Linked DNA regions of Homo sapiens. The protein of the gene in region 1 purifies or fractionates together with the protein of each later gene. This does not show direct contact. Each region holds a gene or a part of one and is shown on either strand. Other genes may lie near its edges.

The links.
Region 2: the proteins of NUDT21 (region 1) and PCF11 fractionate together in Homo sapiens (co-fractionation; 2 studies listed by BioGRID). This does not show direct contact.

The regions. Positions count from the first base shown.
Region 1 is NC_000016.10:56,441,333-56,448,332, forward strand, and holds part of NUDT21 (cleavage and polyadenylation specificity factor subunit 5), read right to left. Parts: intron 6,658-7,000; coding exon 6,457-6,657; intron 5,358-6,456; coding exon 5,294-5,357; intron 1-5,293. UniProt on the Homo sapiens protein: Component of the cleavage factor Im (CFIm) complex that functions as an activator of the pre-mRNA 3'-end cleavage and polyadenylation processing required for the maturation of pre-mRNA into functional mRNAs.
Region 2 is NC_000011.10:83,158,864-83,176,071, reverse strand, and holds part of PCF11 (pre-mRNA cleavage complex 2 protein Pcf11), read right to left. Parts: intron 14,746-17,208; coding exon 14,620-14,745; intron 12,394-14,619; coding exon 12,205-12,393; intron 11,866-12,204; coding exon 11,671-11,865; intron 10,473-11,670; coding exon 9,358-10,472; intron 8,948-9,357; coding exon 8,764-8,947; intron 8,658-8,763; coding exon 8,174-8,657; intron 7,645-8,173; coding exon 6,077-7,644; intron 4,255-6,076; coding exon 4,158-4,254; intron 1-4,157. UniProt on the Homo sapiens protein: Component of pre-mRNA cleavage complex II, which promotes transcription termination by RNA polymerase II.

The DNA.
Region 1 (7,000 bases):
TCCAAGCGACTCCCCTGCCTCAGCCTCCCGAGTAGCTGGGACCACAGGTGCCCGCCACCACACCCAGCTTTTTTGTATTTTTAGTAGAGACAGGGTTTCACCATGTTGGCCAGGATGGTCTCGATCTTTTGACCTTGTGATCCACCTGCCTCGGCCTCCCAAAGTGCTGGGATTACTGGCGTGAGCCACTGCGCCTGGCCTCTTGATTTTCATTTTAAAAACATTTTTTAAAAGCCTATAACCCTCTACTATGAATGAGAATTTAGATATTAAAATCACACATCCTAGTTACACTTTTTCTTCCACCATCTTCCCATTATCAATATTTGGTTAAGTCAATATTCAGTATTTAAGTTAGTATGATCCGGTAGATCAGTCACAACAGAGCAATGATTAGCAAACCGTATCTCCTTACTTGTTCAACTGTCCTATTCTTTAGTTAATAACTTTCATTTCCTTTGCTATCACTAAATTCATTTCCCACATTCTCCATGATAACTTAAATTTCTTCCCAATTCAAATATCAATTGTCAGTTATTCTATTAATTTCATCTTTTCTAAGACATGTTTTTCCTTTTTTCAAGACAAGATCTGTCACCCAGGCTGGAGCGCAATGGCGCGATCTCCACTCACTGCAACCTCCACCTCATGGGTTCAAGCGCTTCTCTCACCTCAGCCTCCCCTGCCCCCAGCCTCCCGAGTAGCTGGGACTACAGATGCAAGCCACAGCACCAGGCTAATTTTTCACCATGTTGCCAAGGGTGGTCTCAAACTCCTAGGCTCACGTGATCTGCCCATCTCAGCCTCCCAAAGTGCTGAAATTGCAGGCATGAGCCACCACACCCAGCCTAAGACACGTTTTTCTATCATCCTGCTGTAATCTGTACTTGATAGTCTCAACCCTGCTTCACAGCTGGAGTCCTTATTTTATTCCATTTTGGGGGTGAACACCCTCTAGTAGCTTCCTGAGAAAAGGTACAAGAGATGTAACTTTTTGAAACTCTGCATGTCTAGAAGTAACTTTTACCCACACACTTGATTTATAGTTTGATTAGAAAATTCTAGGACAGAGATTATATTCTCTCAAAATTACAAAGACAACACTCCACCATCCCTTAGCTTCCAGAATTATTTCTGGGTAGTTTAATGCAATTTCTGATTTTGATGTTTTGCATTTAACCTCTCTGCTTACCAATCCTCCACCTCCCACTTTGGAAGCTTTTACATCTTTTTGTTTTTATTTTCGTTTGTAGGATCTAAAACGTCATGATGATATGCCTTTGCGTGGATCTTTAAACATTCACTATAGAGGCAAGGCCAGTAGGTCTTCTCAATCTCAAAACTCATGCCCTTTGAGGTTTGAGAAATTTTCTCTAATTATGCTTTGCTAATTCTTCCTTTTACTCTGTTCTATTTATCTATAGTTTATATTGGTCCTTCTAGAATGACCCACTAATTTTATCTATTCTTACCTACATTCTATCTTTTTATCTTTTCATTCTATTTTCTGGTAGAATGAACCTCTTAACTCTTTACTGAATTTTTCATTTCTTCCAACATTTTTTTAATATCCATGAGGTTTTTCTTGGCTAAAATGTCTTTTTAATAGCACTGTTTCACAGGTGCAAAATCTCCTCTCATCTCACCAAGAATATTAATCATAGTTTTGTCAATGGTTGAATTTTCTGCTTCTGTTGAGGTCCTTTTGCTTCTTTTGATCTTTTTCTTGTTAAGAAGTTTTCTCCAAAAGCCTGGTGATAGTTGGTTGTGTACTCACAAGGGAGAAGCAACAAGATGCTTAATTGTCACCTCTGTGTGCATGAGTGATAGGACTACAATATTTTTTTTTCTTTTTTTTTTTTGAGACGAAGTCTTGCTCTGTTGCCCAGGCTGGCGTGCAGTGGCATGATCTTGGCTCACTGCAACCTCCACCTCCTGGGTTCAACTGATTCTCCTGCCTCAGCCTCCCGAGTAGCTGGGATTACAGGCACCCGCCACCACGCCCAGCTAATTTGTTTATGTTTGTAGAGACGGGGTTTCACCATGCTGGTCAGGCTGGTCTCAAACTCCAGACCTCATGATCCACCCGCCTTGGCCTCCCCAAGTGCTGGGATTACAGGTGTGAGCCACCGCGCCTGGCCCAGGACTACATTATTTCTATAGAAAATTCTTGCTTTGGTTTGGATATGGTTTGTCTCCCTGCCCCCAAACTCATGTTGAAATTTGATCCCCAATGTGACAGTGTTGGCAGGCAGGGCCTAGTGGAAGGTGTTTGAGTCATGCAGGTGGATCCTTCATGAATAGTTTAATACCCTTCCTCCATCAGGAATGGATTAGTTCCCTGGAGAGAGGGTTGTTAAAGAGTGTGGCTTCCTGGATTCACTCTTGCTTCCTCCCTTGCCATGTCTCTTTGCACATGCCCACTCCCATTTTGCTTTCTGCCATGAGTGGAAGCACCATGAAGCCCTCACCAGCTGCCCAATCTTGCCACCAGAACTGGTGAGCCAAATAAATCTTTTTCTTTATAAATTACCCAGCCTCAGGTATTCTGTTATAGCAACATTAAACAGACGAAGACAGCTCCCAAATGGCAGTATCTGAAGTTTTTCTTGGACTGGTCACTTTTTCCAGAAACAAGAATTCCAACCCTCAGCCTGGGATATATAAATCTAATTGTTGGCTGGGCCTGGTGGCTCATGCATGTAATCCCAATGCTTTGGGAGGACTGCTTCAGGCCAGGAGTTTGAGACCAGCCTGGGCAACATAGCACGATCTCATCTCTATAAAAAACTTTTCTTTAATTAGCCAGGCATCATGGGCACATACCTGCAGTCCTAGCTACTCAGGAAGCTGAGGCAGGAAGATTGCTTGAGCCCAGGAGTTTGTGGTTACAGTGAGCTATGATCACACCACCATCCTCCAGCCTGAGGAACAGAGTGAGACCCTGTCTCTAAAAAAAATAAGTAAGCCTAGACTGACAGTGGCTCACACCTGTAATCCCAACACTTTGGGAGGCCAAAGCAGGCAGATCACCTGAGGTCAGGAGTTCGAGACCAACCTGGCCGACACGGTGAAACCCCATCTCTACTAAAAATATAAAAATTAGCTGGGCATGGTAGTGGGCACCTGTAATCCCAGCTACTCTGGAGGCTGAGGCAGGAGAATCGCTTGAACCCAGGAGGCAGAGGTTGCAGTGAGCAACCATTGCTCACATTGGAGATCACGCCACTGCACTCCAGCCTGGGCGACAAGAGTGAAACTCCGCCTCAAAAAAAAAAAAACAAAAACAAAAAAAAAAAAAAACAAGCCTAATTGTTAACATTCTGTCAGCCTAATAGAGGTCCAAGAGTCTGACTATTCAGAATAGGAACTCTTATTCTCCCCATCCCCTAAACTTTTTTCATTGCTAGTTGTTCTCTGATTCAATTACTACAGAGAATCATCAGCCAGTCTTTGCCTAATTACAGAGTGGGGAAGACAATCTAGATACACAGGTTGAACATCCCAATCTGAAACTCCAAAATCTCAAACTTTTTGAGCACTGACATGATGCTCACAGGACATGCTCAGGCCGGGCGTGGTGGCTCATGCCTGTAATCCCAGCACTTTGGAAGGCCAAGACAGGCAGATCACCTGAGGTTAGGAGTTCTAGACCAGCCTGGTCAACATGGTGAAACCCTGTCTCTACTAAAAATACAAAAATTAGCTGGGCGTGGAGGCAGGCACCTTTAATCCCATCTACTCGGGAGGCTGAGGCCGGAGAATCGCTTAAACCCGGGAGGCGGAGGTGACAGTGAGACAAGATTGCACCATTGCACTCCAGCCTGGGTGACAAGAGAGAGACTTCGTCTCAAGAAAAAAAAAAAGGAAATGCTCATTGGAGCATTTCAAGTTTTGTATATGGGATGCTTAACTGGTAAGTATAATGCAAATATTCCAAAACCTGAAAAAAATCCCAAATCCTAACCACTTTTTTAATTTTTAATTTTTTTGAGTACACAAGATGTTTTGATACAGGCATGCAATGCGTAATATTCACATCATGGAGAATGGGATATCCACCCCCTCAAGCATTTATCCTTTGTGCTACAAACAATCCAATTATACTCTTTTAGTTATTTTTAAATTTACAATTAAGTGATTATTGACTATAGTCACCCTGTTGTGCTATCAAATAGCAGCTAAACACTTCTGGTCCCAAGCTCTCAGATAAGGAATACACAACCTGTATAAATATACTCCATATATACTTTGAACCAGTCCAGTTTTCAGCCCATGCATGCCCCCACTTTCATAAGTACCTAGCACCTTCAGTTCCTCAGTCATTCTGGTACTCTGCAATGCTAGATTCTGCCTGCCTGTCTGCTGGACTAAGGTTTCTGCTAAGTTAGTTATAATTTGCCCATCTGTTTTCCAGTTTCCAAAAATTTTGCTTTTGTGATTCTCTCATTTTGCACTCCCTCAACCTTAATGGACTTATATCTTTGTACCATACATTATATAAATGGAAGTCCAAGCACAGGAAAATGTTTAAGAGTTATAATACATTTTTAGAAATACTAGAAAGACAAACCAATAGGTCAAAAGTGGGAGAATTACGGGTGACTTTAGTTTTGTTTCTCCTTTGCTTTTCTGTGTTTGCCAAGCTTTTTGCACAGAGAATATATGAGCTTTGTAACAGGGGCAGGCGGCAATTGAATGTTAAAGAAGAAAACTAACATTGAAAACAATTTACAATCTCAAAATCCTCAGTATCTATGCATTTGGCCCCAAGTCTTTACATGCAGGCATTACAATGATTTTTAAAAAGTAGAATAATTTGGGCAAAGTCTAAAAAATATGTGAAAAAAGTGAAAACACAGGCATCTTTCTCTTTTCAAAATTCTATAGAGGCCTACTCTTGAACAAAACTACCTGCATTCAAACCTCTGGCTCTACAACACACTAGCTATATAACAAGAAGTAATTTAAACTTAATAATATCTACTTCCTACAGTTGTGGTGGTGATTAAAGGAATTAGCGCATGTAAAGCACTCAGAACAGTGTCTAGCACAGTAATACTTAAATGTCAGTTTTAATTTACCATTGCTGTGACACAGTTTAACATTTTAAAAATTGAAATAAGTGTAACTTCAACTTGTAAAAAAAAATCAACATTGTACTAACCTTCTGGAGTTTAAGTTGTATTTATTGAAAACTAAATATTCCAAAATAAGCATCCTTTTTACAAGACATTAAAAGCCAAATAACTAGTAAGTTGATGGTATTCAAAGTGGTTAAACAGAAAAATACCTCTGTCATTAAGCGTTTTAGTCCTTCAACTTCATCTTCTCCTGGGTTAAGTTCACCACCAGGTCTGTATAAAAGTTAAGAATTTCAGCTTTCAACTTAATACAATTTGGAGATAACAAATAACACAATAATTGTTATTTCTACCAAGTCACTAAGAACATATTTCAGCATAATAAGGCAATCAAAACAAGTATCAAAGTGAAGGGGGAGAATATGCTTGAATTCATGTCAATTCCCCAGACTAACAGTATACAAACCCTAGGTTTTTTTCCTCTTCGTATATATTTATTTTTATTTTATTGTAGATTCAACGGGTACATGTACAAGTTTGTTACATAGGTATATTGTGTAATGCTAAGGTTTAGGCTTCTAGTGAACCCATCACTGAAACAGTGAACATAACATCCAATAGGAAGTATTTCAACCCTCGCCTCCCCCTCACCCTCCCCACCTTTGGAGTATACAGTGTTTATTTTTTCCAACTTTATGTCCATATGTACCCATCACATAAACCCTAGTTTTAAACAAACAGAATATATAACATAGCACAAACATAAACAAAATTGCTAACCACCAGTCCATCCCAATCTCCTCTCTGGGAGCTATCTGATGATAATGGAGTCTAGAAATGCTCAGAGAGGAATGGATCACATTCTTTAGGCCTAAAGAATGGGAAACTTTTTCAAGAACGTCATCTAAGTATTGGAGACTTTTCTTTTTGGTATAATCTAGTCAAATAGTTACGGATCAAATGTTTGAGAGATGTAGGAGCTTAAATGATAAAACACTAAACTGTTATCCACAAAAACCTAAGTCATCTTAAGAACAGGAAATGCTAATCATACCAAGAAAGAAATATCAATTGTTCTTGGTAATGCTACAATGACATCTAGACATTGATCTTGGACTCAACTATTCCATGGGGTTTCTACCAAGCTCAATCATTAACATCAACAACATACAGAAACATACAGATTACTAGTTAGGAAAATAAATGAGCACTGCAATGGAGAAAAATTACTCATGATTTTCTCTTTCTAAAGACATCATTAACAGCAGTGTTTGTTGAAATGAATGACCGAGGGCTAAAATTGTATTCCAGAGCTGCATAAACAGCAATCCTACTAAAAACTGTCTTGCTGTTAATTTCCAACACTACTTACAGTTTGAAGAAAGTTGTTCCCAGCTGCAGCAGTAACACATGGGGTAGCCGGTGCTCATGTACAATCAGAACCCCTTCTACAGTCCTCCTCATTCCAATTTTATCAAATTCTTCCCTCATGCGCTGAAATCTGGCTGCAACAGAGCTGTCCTTCTCGTAGAGGGGCTCTTTTGTACCAAAAGTATAATTGGTAAGAGGGTACCTGTGATCCGAAGACAAACATCTAACATGAGAACTGAAGAATGTAATTTACCATGACAGACATTAGCATAAAGAAACCATGGTACAAAAAAAGTGCATATATTGTACTCAGACACAGGATTTGTACAGTTAACTAAAGTTAATGAAACAGCAGAGACTGGAATCTTGCTCTCTGGACTCTTAAAGCCAGAGCTTCCATTAGATCAAGCTGCTCCTCCATACTTTAACTTTCAAGTGTAGATAACACTATCCTTAAATGCTTAGAGAAATGGTTATCTGAACATTAGTAATCCTCTGGTTTTATACCATGGCTGCTATTTCAACATTACCAATTTGGCTAATAA
Region 2 (17,208 bases), on another chromosome or scaffold:
AAGTGGAAGTACTCCTGACCTCAATGCTCCCTGACGTAACAGGAAAACTGAAACAGGGAGATGAATCAGATGGCTCAGAGTATACCTGCTCCTATGACCTTTGCTAAAAAGCATACTGCCCTTGCAAAGCAGCTCAAGCTATTGCTGAAAAGGTGTCATGGTTACTAAAGCTTCAATAACTTGAATAAATAAGATAAGCCTAACAATCTTGTTCTGCTTGATAAGGAATCCTCATTGGTGAGGAATCATTCCAGTCTCATATTTTTCCAAGCACTATTCTAATAATTGTGATTCTTTTTTTGTTTTTGTTTTTGTTTTGAGACAGAGTCTCACTCTGTTGCCCAGGCTGGAGTGCAGGGGCACGATCTCAGCTCACTGCAAGCTCCACCTCCTGGGTTCACACCGTTCTCCTGCCTCAGCCTCCAGAGCAGCTGGACTACAGGTGCGTGCCACCACACCCAGCTAATTTCTTTTTGTATTTTTAGTAGAGACGGGGTTTCACCGTGTTAGCCAGGATGGTCCTGATCTCCTGACTCCATGATCTGCCTGCCTTAGCCTCCCAAAAGTGCTGGGATTACAGGTGTGAGCTACAGTGCCCGGCCATAATTGTGATTCTTTAACTATGAAAACAATATTTTAGGCCAGGTGCAGCGGCTCACACCTGTAATCCCAGCACTTTGGGAGGGTGATGCAGGTGGATCACCTGAGGTCAGGAGTTTGAGACCAGCCTGGCCAATATGGTGAAACCCCGTCTCTACTAAAAAATACAAAAATTAGCCGGTTGTGGTAGCCCATGCCTGTAATCCAGCTACTCAGAAGGCTGAGGCATGAGAATCGTTTGAAACTGGGAGGAGGTTGCAGTGAGCCAAGATCACCCCACTGTACTCCAGCCTGGACAAAAGAGCAAGAAGACCCTATCTCAAAAAAAAGAAAACAATATTTTAATGTATTTGTATGTCACTATGATGCATCTCACTACACCTATACAGAAAAGTTCTGAACCACTAAAAATTCCTCTTAATGGCAGAAATTCAATTTGCATCCACATACAGATAATCCCTACCCTTAACCACTGTATACATTTATCATACTGCCTTATATATCGTAGGCTAATTAATGTCTGTTCAAACTAAATGTCTGAATACATGAATGAAGAGATCAACTTCAATAATCAATTACAGTAACATTTAACTCACTAGTTTAACCTTTACTTTCCTTTAAATTAGCTATTTATATGCCTAAGATGCACAATTAGCTATTCAGATGTCTGAGGGCAGCCAAGTCTAGTAACCAACAGCATAAACTGTGGAACCAGACTCCAGGGATTTTAACCAGAAATTCCACTTTCTAGTTGTGTGACATAATCAAGTTCCTTATCTATGCCTCAGTTTCCCGTGCCTGTAAAAAGGGTAATAATAGTTCCTACCTAAGATTGATATGAGGTTAAATGAATTAATATTTCTAAGGAACTGAGGTGTTTGGCATTATTATGTGTTTTTTGTTAAACCAAAAAAAAAAAATCAATAGCCTTTCTATATTATAAAGCTCTTTGAGGCCGAGTGTGGTGGCTCATGCCTATAAACCCAACACTTTGGGAGGCCGAGGTGGGAGGATTGCTTGAGTTCAGGTGTTTGAGACCAGCCTGGGCTACATAGTGAGCACCCTCTTTAAAAAAAAAAAAAAAACTTTAAAAATAAAAATAAAGGTCTTTGAAGGATGAACCTTATTAAATTCATCCTAGCATACTGCCTAGCATACAGCAGATGACTAATATATGTCTGAAAAATGAACATGGGTATATTTCCTACTAGAAAAGGGATGTTTACACTTTCAAATTAGAGAAGGAACCTTGAGAGAAGCTAAATATAGCACACTGAAAACTGTTGACACATCTTTTAAGAGTAAGAAGAACTTGAAGAATGAAGACACACCTAATGTCCCATTCAATACCCCCTAACAAGGGGAATAATTATGATTTCCTCTGTGACACTGCTATGTCCTGTACACATACACATATAACCCAAGGTTGTAAAAGCAAAACAAGGCTGGGCACAGTGGCTCATACCTGTAGTCCCAGCACTTTGGGAGGTCAAGGCAGGTGGATCACCTGAGGTCAGGATTCAAGCCACCCTGACCAATATGGTGAAACTCTGCCTCTATTAAAAATACAAAAATTAGCCAGGTGTAGTGGCATGTGCCTGTAGTCCCAGCTACTGGGGAGGCTGAGCCCGGGAGAACTGCTTGAATTCAGGAGGCAGAGGTTGCAGTGAGCTGAGATCATGCCACTGCACTCCAGCCTGGGTGACAAGAGCAAGACTCGTCTCAAAAAAAAAAAAAAAAAAAAAAAAAAAAGAAAGAAAGAAAGAAACAAGAAAATTTGTAGTTTCTGTAGAGCATCTCATGCCACTAACCCCAATATAACAAATCCTCTGCTCAACAATAAAAACTGAGTTCTAAAGGAAAATACATTAATATAGCACTTGACAAGTTACAAGTTACAAAGTACTTTTGCATATACTATATCATTTGATTCTCTAAAAAAAAAAAAACAACAACAAAACAGACAAATACTGATACTACCATATCATGTTTTTTTTTTGGTTTTTGGTTTTTTTTCTGAGACGGAGTCTCACTCTGTCACCAGGCCTAAGTGCAGTGGCCTGATCTTGGCTCACTGCAACCTCCACCTCCTGGGTTCAAGCGATTCTCCTGCCTCAGTCTCCTGAGTAGCTGGGACTACAGGCATGCACCACCACACCCAGCTAATTTTTGTATTTTTAGTAGAGACGAGGTTTCACCATGTTGGCCAGGATGGTCTCCATCTCTTGACCTTGTGATCCACCTGCCTCGTCCTCCCAGAGTGCTGGGATTATAGGCGTGAGCCACCATGCCCGGCCCATATGCTGTTTACAGAGGGAAAAAACTGAACCTCAGGGGAGATACTTGCTTAAAGCCTGCGCATTTATAAAGTAACATAGTAGAGATTCCAACCCTGGTCTTCTGGGCTTTAGATCCCAAATTCTTTCCTTCTCTTTTCATTATAGTAACAAAATAATAATAATAACAAATATTAATTAGTCATAATTGTCCATGTAGAAATTAAAACTTAAAAGCTTCCAAATTCATTGAATTTCTTGACACAATTTAAGGACTAATGTATAAAAAAGAGCTTGGCTAGGATTTCCTAATTACTTCAGAAGTTTTGGAAAACTCCATAAATTTATTGTAAACTGATTAACTCAATACTACAGTAAAGCATGTTTCTGAAACAGCTGTTTCAATGATTCAGAAATGAAAGCAAGTATCACTAATGTATGTACTTCCCTATTACCACATATTAAAACTAAAATTCATTTTGCCGGGCATGGTGGCTCACACCTGCCATCTCAGCACTTTGGGAGGCTGAGGTGGGCAGATCACTTGAGGTCAGGAGCTCGAGACCAGCCTGGCCAAGATGGTGAAACCCCGTAAAAATACAAAAGTTAGCCCAGTCTGGTGGCACACGCCTGTAGTCCCAGCTACTTGGGAGGCTGAGACAGGAGAATCGCTTGAACCCCGGAGGCAGAGGCTGCAGTGAGGCAATATGACACTACTGCACTCCAGACTGGGTAAGAGAGCAAGATTCTGCCTCATAAATAAATAAATAAATAAAACTAAAATCCATTTTAAAAGTCCTTTTATCTAGTACTAAGCATCACCCCATAGTAACAAAGATGCTTATCAGTGAACCTGGCTAGGAAAGCCGCTTTTTGCTATTTGAGTGCCCACAAAAACATAAAAATTAATCAACTTTATTAATGCAGTATCCTCAGTATTCACTGAGATTTCTAAGGTCTGTCATTTATTTCATTCTATCTCAACACAAATGTCATACCTTCCCTCCCACTCCCAGTTTCCACCCAATAGGTTTCCTTCCCTTTGTTTAGTGGACTACAAGTCCCCGCTAACCATCTCTAGCTGTAAATAGGGTCATTATGAATACACATCCACAATGTAAATAAACTTAGAAAAGGAACAAAAATATGTCAGCCAGATTAAATTTCTCTAAATTAAATATACCTTTGCAAAACTGTCATTTCCTAAAATTCACAAAGTTAGCTATTCAACAAAACAATAATCATTTGTCTTTTGAAAAACAAAGTTCAGAAAGTACATACCTGAAGGATTCTGAACAAATCCAGGATTTTGTGGATGAACTGGTAAAAACTGTTGTCCTTGACCAAAAGCTACTGGCTGAGCAACACCACTCAGAACCTTTAAGAAAAACCTTAATTTTAAGAACATGCTTTCTATATTTCAAGTAAAACTTTTAACATCCTAATTACATAAAAATATTCATAGATGTCACAAGGCCTGGCTTATAAATAAAGATTTAGAAAGATAACTTGGCTGCATCACTTCACTTCTAGGTCTTCTACAAACAGGAACAATAAAACCTTCCCTTATCTGTTTCATAGAGGTATAAGTTACTGAGAATGGGTTAAAACTTCTTTGAAAAGTTTAAGGTACCTACTAGAGAGGCAAAGTAGCCCCCCAAAAAGGAAACTGTAAGATACCATGCAAATATAAGGTAACTAGCTGTGTTACTTTACACAAGTCACTTTACCTTGCTGGTGCTTTCCCTTATTTTACAAATAGAAGAACTGACATAATGCAATATGATCTATACACAATCACAAGGGCTAGTTAGGAGCAAAACTGAGGCCAGAACTCCTAACCCTTGCCACTTTTCCACAGATATCAAAAGCCTGTTCTAATTAGCATTCTGAATTACCAAGCAGGTAAGCATCTTGCTTGGCCATCATCTTTGCACATGGTTATAGCCACATTACAAAGTAATCTTGTAAAAGGTCTTGTAAAAGATGTCAAAGGGAATGTTAAAAAACAGAATAGTCATGGAGCAAGAACTATACTGGCATACAAATACAGCATTTGCAGTCCAGAGGGAGGCAGGACTTCTACATATTGCTGGTATGTGAATAAATATCCATTTATAATCCTTGTTCAGTATACATGTGGACTTTTGGTAGTGAGTACACATAATAAAAACCCCACCGATTCTGTGTAATGTAGAAACAAGACTAAGTAAGTACCATTCTAGAGTATCTGTCAATAAGAGTATCATTTCTTTCAAGGATATACAGTAGAGTAAATCTAGGCAAGCCAACTGTTTTTTCGTACCATTAGAGATGAACAGAAGGACTACTTTCTATCAATAATGTTCCTAATGTACTTTTAAAATCTTTCTTATTTTGTATTTTCTTCCATGCAATCTTACTACTATAAAATAAATCTGTCATAGTAAGAAAATGTCTGCACCTGGAAAAGAAGTAAAACTCAGCCTAGGAGAATTTCAGCACGCAAGCAAAAGTAGTCATTCAAAACCAACCGAATTAATCACAAATTGTAAACATACTGCCTTAAAGTTGTCTCAGTATGCATTTTAAAATGTATACAGAACAAGTGTGAAAGAATACCAACAGGTAACAGTGCATGTTTCGTAACCAGAGTGTATTTGGAAGGCTATTCGCTATGTTGTCATTAATATCAAACAATTGTGTTTAACTGAAGTGACTGGAAAGGTGGTAAAAAGTAGGAAAAAAGGACCAAAAAAAAAGAATTGTAGACTGTGAAAGCAGGGACACAATTTGATCTTCTTATTTAACTCAGGTTAAGGAAATTCTTGGTCAAAGAACAGTTCAATCAATTCTATGGCTACCTTAAAGCACGTCAGGGCTCAACAGTTCTGCAATGTAGAGGTCTATGACACACAATTGTATAATATCTCAAAAGCTTTAAAGCAAAAAAAAAGGAAAAAGAAAAAACAGAGCTGGAGGTGGGGGTTTGATTGAGATATTTCCCTAGATCCTGAAAGAGCTAAAATCAATTTTGGATTTAAGTTGCAAATTTCATCCCCAAAAGATGCTCATCCCACTTCCTTAGCATGTGGCTTTAGAGTACATTAAAAACTTCTTTCCAATCTACACAATAAACTATGTCCTGAAAACCCTCCTAGAAACATTAAAAAATGGTTAACTTATCTGCATACAACGCAATTTTAGAATAACAGACTTACCTGTTGAGATGCCTGAATATTTCCTACTGTCATTGGAGCAGGTATATTGCCAAAGTTTCCAAATTGAGAACTCTGAAGATTTTTTTCATCAAAATAGTGTCCAGAAGCTCTGTTAAGTGGATTAGAGAAACTCTGGTTTCCAGGGCCATGTGGTCCATTAAAATTTGGTCCTTGAGGTGAATCAAATATTTGTTCATGTCTTTGGAACTGTAGTCCTTGGGATGGGGCATTAAAAGCATTGCCAGGTGGATCATTATATGGACCAGTCTGATTGAAAGATACTGATTCAAGCCTTTGTGAAGGATGATTGTCAAATCTTGTGCCTTGAAGACCAAGAGGAATATCAAACCTTGATGCTTGCTGATGTTGTGGACCATCAAATCTTTGAGGTACACCGTCAAATCTGGGTTGAACCTGCTGTCCAGGTGGTCCATCAAACCTCTGAGGGCCTGGCTGACCAGGAGTCCTTTCAAATCTAGGACCTGGCTGACCATGTAATCCATCAAATCTTGGCAAGAGTGACGGCTGACCTGGCTGCCCATCAAACCTTAAAGCATGACAACCTTCAAATCTTGGACCACCTTGACCCAGAGGCCCTTCAATTCTCAGGCCACCTCCTGGTACAGAAGGACCCTCAAACCTCATTCCACCTCCTTGTTGGACTAAAGGGCCTTCAAACCTGATACCAACCCCTGGCTGACCATGTGGACCCTCAAACCTAAGGTTCCCACCAAGTTGATTATGTTGTCCCTCAAATCTCAGACCAGCTACTGACTGACCATGGGGGCCCTCAAACCTCATTCCAACCCCTTGCTGTAGCAAAGGGCCCTCAAATCTGATTCCACCTCCTGGCTGACCATGAGGTCCATCAAACCTAATCGCAGCCCCTGATGGACCATGACCCCCCTCAAATCTAAGTCCACCTACAGGCTGACCTCGGGGATTATCAAATCTAAGTCCACCCACAGGCTGACCATGAGGTCCCTCAAACCTTAGACCACCCACAGGTTGACCACGATGTCCCTCAAACCTCAGACCACCCACAGGCTGGCCTCCTGGTCCCTCAAATCTCAAACCACCTGGAGATCCCTCAAACCTCAGACCAGGGGAACCTTCAAACCGAAAACCACCTCCTCCTGCTTGACCAATTGGGCCCTCAAACCGCAGAGGTGTCCCCACTGGTCCTGGAGGACCTTCAAATCTCAAAGGACACCCACCTCCTAGCTGACCTTGTGGCCCCTCAAATCTCAAAGGGCCTCCTCCCCCCATTTGTCCTGGTGACCCATCAAACCGAAGAGAAGCTGGTGTGGGAGGTCCATCAATTCGAGGGCTTAATTTATTGGGTCCTTCAAAAATCATCTTCGTTGGGCCATCTCTTGCTACTGATGGCCTACTAGGTCCATCAAATAACGGTCTGTCTTCAGCTAAAGCTGTAAGTCGCTGATTTGTATCCAGGCCGGCGAATCTTGATGCTGGACTATCTACAAATGGTTTATCTGAATCTTCATATCGAGGTCGCTTAAGTGGAAAACGATCATTGAATGGAGATCTCTGCTCTTCTCGCACACCTTTTAAAAAGGAAAAAAATTATTTTCACTAAAGTTATCTTAAAATCTTCTATTTTCGTATGAATGTTTATCCAAATATATAACTATCTCACTACATTAGAGGGGCAGGAGAGACCGACAGCGTAAAGCAGCAGATAAGAGGATGCCCTCTAGAGTCAGACACACCTGAGTAACAAAAAAATTACCATCCTATCAACATACTAATTATTTCATTTTGAGAGCAAGTTATTTAACCTCTCTTTTATTTCCTATCTGTAAAATAGGGAGAATATACACTTCATTGTATTGTTGTGAGGATTAAATCAAATTACATATAAAAAATACCTAATGAAGTACCTGACACACAACTGGCCTTAGAAATATTAGCTCCCTTCCCTTCCCTTTCCTTAAAGGGAAAAAACATAACAAAATAAATGGGAAAAAAAATGGTAATCTGAACAGTCACAAAAATCCATCCCCACTTAGCTTGTTCATTTTCCCTTCACTGCTGTGTGATTCAATAGGCATAATCTGATTTAACTTTTTCTACCTTTAGCAGAGACTTGCTCGTCATGTCTTCTCCGGCCCTCATGGGGTGAAAGATTCTCAGCATAAGTACGACTCCCAGATATAGGAGAAAGACGTCTTGCTCTTTCACTAAATTGTTCTTTTCTGTCAAACTGTGCTCCACTATTCCTACTTGCATGTTTACTTTTGGATGGCTCACATTCTATTCCAGACAACAAGGCATCAGTCAAAGGGTAGTCAAAAATATCAGGATCTAAGAGATCAAGTCTTGGAAATGAATGCTGAACCTGTGTCCTTTTCAGTTTTGCTTTATGTTCATAGTAGGTTAATTCAGCATCAGATAAGAGAGGTTTCTTTTTTAATCCACCTTTATTTTCTTCTGTAGGACTATCCCGTACATTGCATCTATGTTTACCTTCTTGATACTGAAATAGCTGTCGAATTTGATGCACAACAACAAGGAAGTCATCCTGTGTAATTTCACCAGATGCTAAACGTTCACTCGTCTGTATAGGGGTGATAAAAGGAAATAAAATATTTTAAATATAAAAAAATACCAAAAAAATAGACGATAGATAATGATGACTACATGGGATTAATCATAGTAACTACCTTTTGAAGTAATTCTCTTTTGCTTGCAAGAGTTAACTCTTTAGGAATCTGAAGATTGGCATCTACACTTAATCGATGCTGTTGCTGCTTTGGGGCTCGAGGTGATAAAATTCCTTTAGTGCTTGACCAGCTCTCCCTATGCCTCAGATGAGGAGGTTTACTATGTTCATCAACCTGTTGTAAGCTGAAACCATAAAAGCAGTATGTTACATTGAAATGTTTTTTTAAAAAATACTCAGGACCATATTTAAAGATTCTTTTCAAAGGATATGGTTAAAATGGGCATATGTAACCACAAAAAGTAATTAAATAAATGATTAAGAGCACAAAATATGAAATCAGCAAAAACAGATATGAATTCTGATTCTTGCATGTCCTGGACTGCAGCCTTAGGTAGATTAGTTAACCTTTCTAAACTTCAGTTTCCTTATCTGTAAAATAGAAATAATAATAGTATTTAACCCACAGAGATGTAAGAATTAGATGGAAAAAAAGTACTAATAGCACCTAATAAACATTTTCCAATTTTTAAATTAACACTATCTTTTGAAACATATACACTACTACACTTGACTTAAAATGTTAACATCATACCTTTTATTTTCTTCCCAACCAGATTTCCATCTTTTGGCAGACTTGGAACTTTGCCAGTTTTCTACATTCTCCTTTGGTTCAGTGCCTGACTTTGTAGAATGCTGATTTGTAGTTTCTTGTGGTCGCTCCTCTTCAGTCTTTTTCATTCGCCTTGGATCCCGAATATCCTGTTTAGTACTTCTCTTAGCATTTCTGTCTTCCCTAGAAGGTGGTGTAAACTCTTCCATATGTGACTGCTTAGCTCCAGATTGGCGAATCTTTCCAGCTTTAGGTGTCGATGTTGGAGACATACTTCTTTGCCTTCGTTTGGGTGACCGCCTATCTCTTCTCTTTGGGGAATGTATAATTGGTGACCTAGACTTGGGTGATCGAGATCTTGATCGCTTTCTAGTACTCGATCTCCCTGGTTTTGTCCCCTGTTTTTCTGACTCTTCTGTTATTGTATCCTGTTTTTGTACAATGCCATTTATGATTTTATTTCTACTTCCAGCCAGTCTGTGTTCGGATGACTTCATGTGCTCATCTTTATCCTTTTTTTCTGCAGTTTTTCTCTTCTCTTTCACATCATCATCTTTGCCATCGGTCTTATCCTGAAGATGTTTTTTTAATCTTGGATCTCTCTTGTTCATATCAGACAACCTCATACTTTCCGATTCTTGATTTTTCAAGTCTTTTGTGTGAGATAATTTGTTTTTCAAAGGTGAGGGTGATTTCGATTTCGATTTCGATTTAGAATCTAATTGGTCAAGTTCTTTCTTGGTTATTTTTTCACCTGATTTACTTTTTTCTTGCTTGGATGAATTTAGTTTTTCAGAGGGTATAGTTTTACTTGTCTTAGTATCAGACTGGTTTAATGTGTTCATTAGAAATTCTTTCCTGTGACTCTGATCTTTTCCATGAGAATGTTGGCTTATCCTGTTCAGACGAGGATCCCGGTTAGTTCCTTTTAAATCCTGAATTTGTAAGGATGGTCCTGGACGGCTTTTCTCAGATTGCACAGGAACCTGATGAGGAGCTTTAACTGCCATAGGGGGAATCTGTGAAACATGTAATTTGGATGGTGCAGATCCAGGACCTAAATTGGATGTTTCCTGCTGAACACTAAGAGAAACTGCCTAAAACACAAAATAAATGTTCATGTTAACACTGCAGAACATGCAGATTGTCAAGAAATTGCAAACAACTGAAGAAGATAATGCTTTATTCAATAAATATATTTACTCAACACTACATTTAAATTGTACACTTATAATGTATAAATTGAGATTACAATGAAAAGAAAAAGTCCATGATTTAAGTTGCCCATTATTTCTTACTAGTATTTTTTGAGACTTTATAATATAATCTCTAAATAGAATGAAAAAAAATTGTTTCTCTTCCTTATTGTTCAGGATTCTGAGCCATACTGCTCCTAAGAAATTGCTAAATCACTACACTCCGGCTGCACAAGAATCAGAGTCATTTCAGCTAAATTCTAAGTCCTAAAATTTAGTTTCTCCCAAAGTGGTGCTATTAATGAACTTATAAAATTCTGCCTTCCTGCACCTCACTGTCGAATAAGCTCAGATGCTAAGCAAAATAACTTAGTATAAAGTCATTTATGTGTAGAAAGATATAATCTTCCTGGCCTCCTTAATTTTGTCATTTCTGTTCATGGAGCATAAGCTCATAAAACATTAAAGACTATGCAAAAATATTTGCCACAACATGCCTACCATCTTGGGACTGAAATATTAAGTCCACATAATGTAATGATTAAACAAAATTAAGATGCTATTTTATAAGATAGCAATCTAACAGAAAACTGTTTGGAGGAAATAGTGTAGTTTTGTAGTTTTTGGAGGGTTTTCTTGAGACAGGGTCTTGATCTGTCACTCAAGCTAGAGTGCAGTGAAGCAATCATAGCACACTGCAGCCGCAAGTGATCCTTCCAACTCAGCCTCTCGAGTAGCTGGGATCACAAGGATGCACTACCCCACCTGGCTAATTTTTTTTTTTTTGGTAGGGCCTCACTATGTTGCCCAGGCTGGCCTCAAACTCCTAAACTCAAGCGATCCTCCCACCTCAGACTTCCCAAGTGTTGGGATTACAGGCATGATCCACTGCGCCTGGCCTATGCAGTTTTTAATCAAGTGAATTTTACAATAAAGATATAAAAGTATAGTCTAATAAATATACTCATTTGTAAAATAAAAGTGAAAAAAGAGTACACTATTAATAAAAGTAACATGTTAATAAAATTCAAACATAAACATTACTTCCCTATTGTTAGACAGGTTTAAAATATTTAAAATGACAATCTCCCTTACTTACCAACTGTGCCTTAGCTTGCTCTAGCTCAAGCTCCAGCTTTTTCTGCTGAAGTTCTAACAACTGTTTTTGCTTTGCCAGTAACTGCTGCCTTATTAGTTGTTCTTGTGTAAGATTCTTTTGTATATCAGGAACAATTGGAGGAGTGGAGATGCTAGGGGAACTGACCACTGTACCAGGTGTTGAAGGCTCCTCGGGCTATAAGAAAAGACAATTTGTTTAAGAAAAACGTATCAGCTAAAACGGAAGCTAGGGAGTAAAAATTATCAGCTTAACTCTTAATATGATCCAAATTCCTATCACACAGAAAACTTATCAGAAATTTAAAACCCAAAATAAATGTTACATAATACCTAAACAAGGTGAATATATTTCTAAATAAAAATTCCAAACATATACACACTATTTTTTTTTTTTTCAAATTGAACCAATTCACTACCGAGTATTCTATTTTGACTTTCTGGCAGTAAGTTCTGCAGAAGAATTCAAAATGTGATACTTAAAAGTATGTTACTTACTATTCATATTAAAACTTACCGATTTATTTAAAAATTTAGGATTCACATGGATGCTAGACGTATTCACATTGGGGGGTAGAGGTTTAATAGGCCAAGCAGGATCTAATGAATTGACTCTGACATCCAGGGCATAAAGTTTCTTCAAAGGGAATATTTCATCCCATGTAGAACGTAACTTAAATAAACTTTTCCTAGTATTTTCATCCACCTAGAACAACAGAACAATTCTATGGCTTGTTAAGTTACTATAGAATATTTTATATATTAAATATAAGTTATATAAATCTGCTCTACTTCACATACAGAACTGTACTACCCATTGGTAAGTATATACAACAGTAATAATTTATTAAAGGTGCATTTCTCCTTCAAAAACAGAGTAATTAAAACCATTTTCACCTAGCCTTCATGCAAGCAACCAACCAGGTGAGCCTTTCTATATACAAAACGTTTCCACATCTTAGAGCTTAGTATAATATTCCTAAAGTTACTCTTTCTCTGGGAAAAAAAAATGTAAGACAACTAGAAAATATAAAACTAAAAAATATAAAACAACTAGAAAAATTGATTACCTGATGGCTTAAATGTTTTAAATTATTTACATAGTAGTACAAAGTTAAAATTAAAGCAAAACTATCTCACTAACTAATGCTCAGCAATACTATATGGTTGGGTACATAGGAACAAGATATTGTGGTGTGGAAAGCACTTTAACAACTGAAATTCACAAAATCTTAACCACTGATAAGCCTTAGTTTTAAATAACTTTTCTGTTCAGGTTTGTGATGGCGTAAAAATGTTTAGAAAATTTGCCATTGCCAGGCACGGTGGCTCACGCCTGTAATTCCAACACTTTGAGAGGCCGAGGCAGGTGGATCACCTGAGGGAGTTCAAGACCAGCCTGACCAACAATGGTGAAACCCCGTCTTTACTAAAAATACAAAATTAGCCAGGCATGATGGCTCATGCCTGTAATCCCAGCTACTCGGGAGGCTGAGGCAGGAGAATCACTTGAATCCGGGAGGCGGAGGTTGCAGTGAGCCGAGATTGTGCCATTGCACTCCAGCTTGGGCAACAAGAGCAAAACTCCATCTCAAAACAAAAAAAAGAAAAAGAAAGAAAATTCGCCATCAAGAAACCTAGGACTTGGGAAAACTGAGTTAGATTTTCAACATTAGGATAGACAGTAAAGCCTTAACTATATTCATAAGTCTTCAGATAATAATGTATTTATTACAAGGTCATTTTAATCAACTGTCATGTTAATGCCCAGTTAGATTCAGTAAAGGTATGCTACCAAACACCCAAGTGAATTTGAACATACTGAAACCGAAACCAAGAGGTTGGTTAAGCTTCTCCTTAAGACTACAGCCTCTGGTTAGCAGTATTCAGCAAATGTCTACAATATTCTATTAACAAGCATTTTAATGCTATATGATATAGAGCTTTCCAGATTTCTTCTGCATATACTGTTTTTCTCTAAGAACTTAAAAACATTTCTCAAATAGCAACTACTTATTTTCTAATAAACATGTAAAATCTAATACTGAATAGTTCTTCCAAAAAAAATTCCAATTCTACAAATCTGACAACTGACACACAGGTGTTCATCTACTAAAATATAATAACTACCACCAAATATTGACGTTAGGAAACAATCTTTAAACCTAAGTATCTCATAAGTGCCTTTTTGTTCAATGTGAAAGATATAGCCTGACAGGCAGAGAATTACCTCAGCAAATCCCTTGTCCTCCTCAACATAATACTGCTTTAACCAAACCACCATGTTACAGTGTTATGGAAGAAATTTACAATCTCTAGATATGAAAAATAAGCCTAATTTCTGAACACTAAGGTAGGGGCAAAAGTATTTCCAGAATAACCAACAGCAATTAACTGGTCCACCATTCACACATACCAACAACATTCACCTAAAACATACCTTGAACAATGTAACAAAAGTAAACATTTCCAGAAAACAAAACAAAAAAACACACAAGTTTCAGGAACCAATCACAGGTTGAGACACTGAGGGATTATGCTTTTTACCCCCCCAAGAGAACAGTCAACATCCTAACACCAGAAATGTAAACAATGAAATTTTAATTACTCTTGACGATTTCAGATCTTTTTGCCTGGTTTGTAAGTGATGAAACAGATGTTCAAATGAACACACTCAATTTTTTTAAAAAGCACAATTCTAAAAGCAAATCCATCTATTCTTAAATGGATAATGTAAACCCCTAGAATCTGTTCTAAAAATCTAACATAAAACATTAACTTCAGCCTCTTTCTTTGAAATGGTACTAACGATAAATGTCCAAAAGTATAAAACATTTCACCACCCAAGAAAACCCAACACAAAGCAAATATTTATTTAATCAGGAACACATTTTTTAAAAAAAAACGCAAATGTTTCTAAATGCATATGTACCTTTTCAAACACACAAATAAATGTTGCAACTAGATTTTTAGTAAAGGCAGTGAGATACTCTCTTCCAACGTTTTTCACAATAGAATCCATAAGGTACATAACAGGAAGCTTCTCTGAGGAAGGAGCCTGAATAAAAAGAAACTGAGAAGTTTAGTATAATGAATTACCACCAAATAATTATTTAAAAATGAGTTTTTAAACCTACAATACAGACCTCTATTTTTGTTGATACTAAATATTTTTGAAGTAATCTTTATGAAACTTAAGTGTTCAATCAAGCTCTCAACTCTCACAATCCTTAGTTGAGCACAAAAAAGCTCAGAATTACCAGGATGAACAACAGCTGTAATCCCTAATATACTCATTTAACACTCAATGAAATTTCAAGTTCATGTGGTAAAAAGACCTGTGTTTTAAGTGACAAAAATAAGGAGGAGGCGAGGGAAAATTACTTTATATAATCCAAGTGTCAGTTTTGTGACCCATATTAACTTACAACGGTGTGCCTACACTCAAAGCAGTTTTTAGACCTCTTGTAGAAACTAATTTCCATGGGCATATTTTATATGTTCAAGTCTATGAAGCTTTTGTTACCTGTAAAATCATTAGGATTACTTCTCTATAATCCAAATGAACAAAAATTAAAAACACTTCACCTAGGAAGTCAATGGCAAAACACTGAAACTTGCACACGAACATGCAGGAAGTTGCAAGTTTGTTACTCAGACAAGAAAAACTGGATGGAGCAGCCGCTGAATCATGTAAATCAGGTTGAACTTGACTCTGGAAACCAGGATTTGTCCTGAAGATTTTCTTCACAGCCTGGACTCTCCGCCGAGATATTTTCCTCTGACATGCACAAACCAGGGGTTATAAATTTGTGCAGAGCCAGTGTGGTGATGCTGATACAGGTGGCCCTTTCCAAAGTAAAGAAATGTTGCCCCAGTTCAACTGCAATGCCTACCCACCACTGGCTTTTAGAAGGCACAGCAAGCTTCCAGAAAGCATCAGCAGGTTCACAGACTTGTTGAGGAGCATTAAGACACACCATAATAGTTTTAACTCTGACTCCAAAGGAGCACCCATGATTTAAAATAAAAAAAAAAGACAAAAAAAAAAAAAAAAAAAAAACTTAGGTTATCCCCATTTACCCACCCCACGTGTATAGGAATCTTAACCCTAAGTAACACTTACCCATAGCTGCCTGAAGCTAGGGTAGGCTCACAGTTCTGGAGTACACAATGCCATCATATATAATAAAACCAATTGCCCATACAAGTGTGTGGAAATGCTCTTGCTTCTGATAACACCTTTACAACCAAAAGTTGGCTAAGGGAAGCTTTGAATAACTTTGTATGAAAAATTTCTTTTAAGGTACTGTCTAATAAAAGGGTTCACCCACTGCATGTGGGTCAACTATATTAAGTACGAACATGTCAAATGGTTTACTGCTGTGTCTTTACCTTACCATGTCATGTTTTACACCATTTTAGTCATTATTGTACTTATGAAGATAAACAGGCTCTCTTAAACACCAAAGTCTGTTAAGTAGGCTAATTTTTTATTGTACAAGTGAAGTCCTTTTATGTATTATTTTTCGCTACTGCTCTCTCTTGGGAGGAGTCAAATTAAGTGTGAATCCTTTAAGTTTAGTAACGCAGAGAAGCTAAAGAATAAGGACACAAACATTCACCTCCAAAACACAAAACCAGGCCAGTTTGCTACCAAATAACGGAAATCCCTCCCCTCACCCTCGATCCCAACCCAGATTAAGATAGATCCCCCAAAGTGACTTTTACATCTTTTCCTCAACCTGGCTTTACAAAAATAACCAGGAAACGTGTGCCCCCAAAATTTCAGCTGTCTTTTACCAGCAAAGAGCTCATCTATTTTCATCACTGTGTAGCGATATACAAACACAAGTTTTATGTGGTCACTATATTCAGCATTTAGTTTTCGGTTCTCGAAGGTCTTCCGGATCCATTAAAAACCAGCAAGGTTCTTTGAGTGACAACCTGAGCTGCTAAATATTAGGCGCTGTGGAATATTAAATCCCAAGATACGAGGTAATTAGATTTTAAAAATCAATGTTTTTGCCTTAAAAACACAAGTGCTTTAAGGCATTTAATGTCAAGTTAAGCCTTCAACAAGGCAAAAACTAAGTTTTCATGTCCAAGATGTTTGTGGTATCAATAAAAAGCATGTTGAGTATGACGAATGCTTCCTTTTTAAATCTCACACTTAAAAAAAAAAGCTGTTTTACATACACTTTCACAGGAAAAAGTGAACGAAAACTTGTATCTTAGCTGTCAGACTGAGCATGATAAACTTGTTGAGGTCCTTAAAAGGAAAAAGAAAAAAAACCCTTCCTTTTCGTCCTCTTTAAATTATGAAAGGACCACCTGAAACCGTGTATCTTGTGAAGAGGTTTACCCAAAAGAGTGGATGGAACCTAAAGAAGAATGAACCCAAGTCACTTAAAGACTTTTGTTTAAAACACACAACCACGTAGATAAAAATAAGTCTTGGAAACAGATTCTACACCTTACAAAGGTAAATAAAAAAGACAAATACATATTTTATATGTTT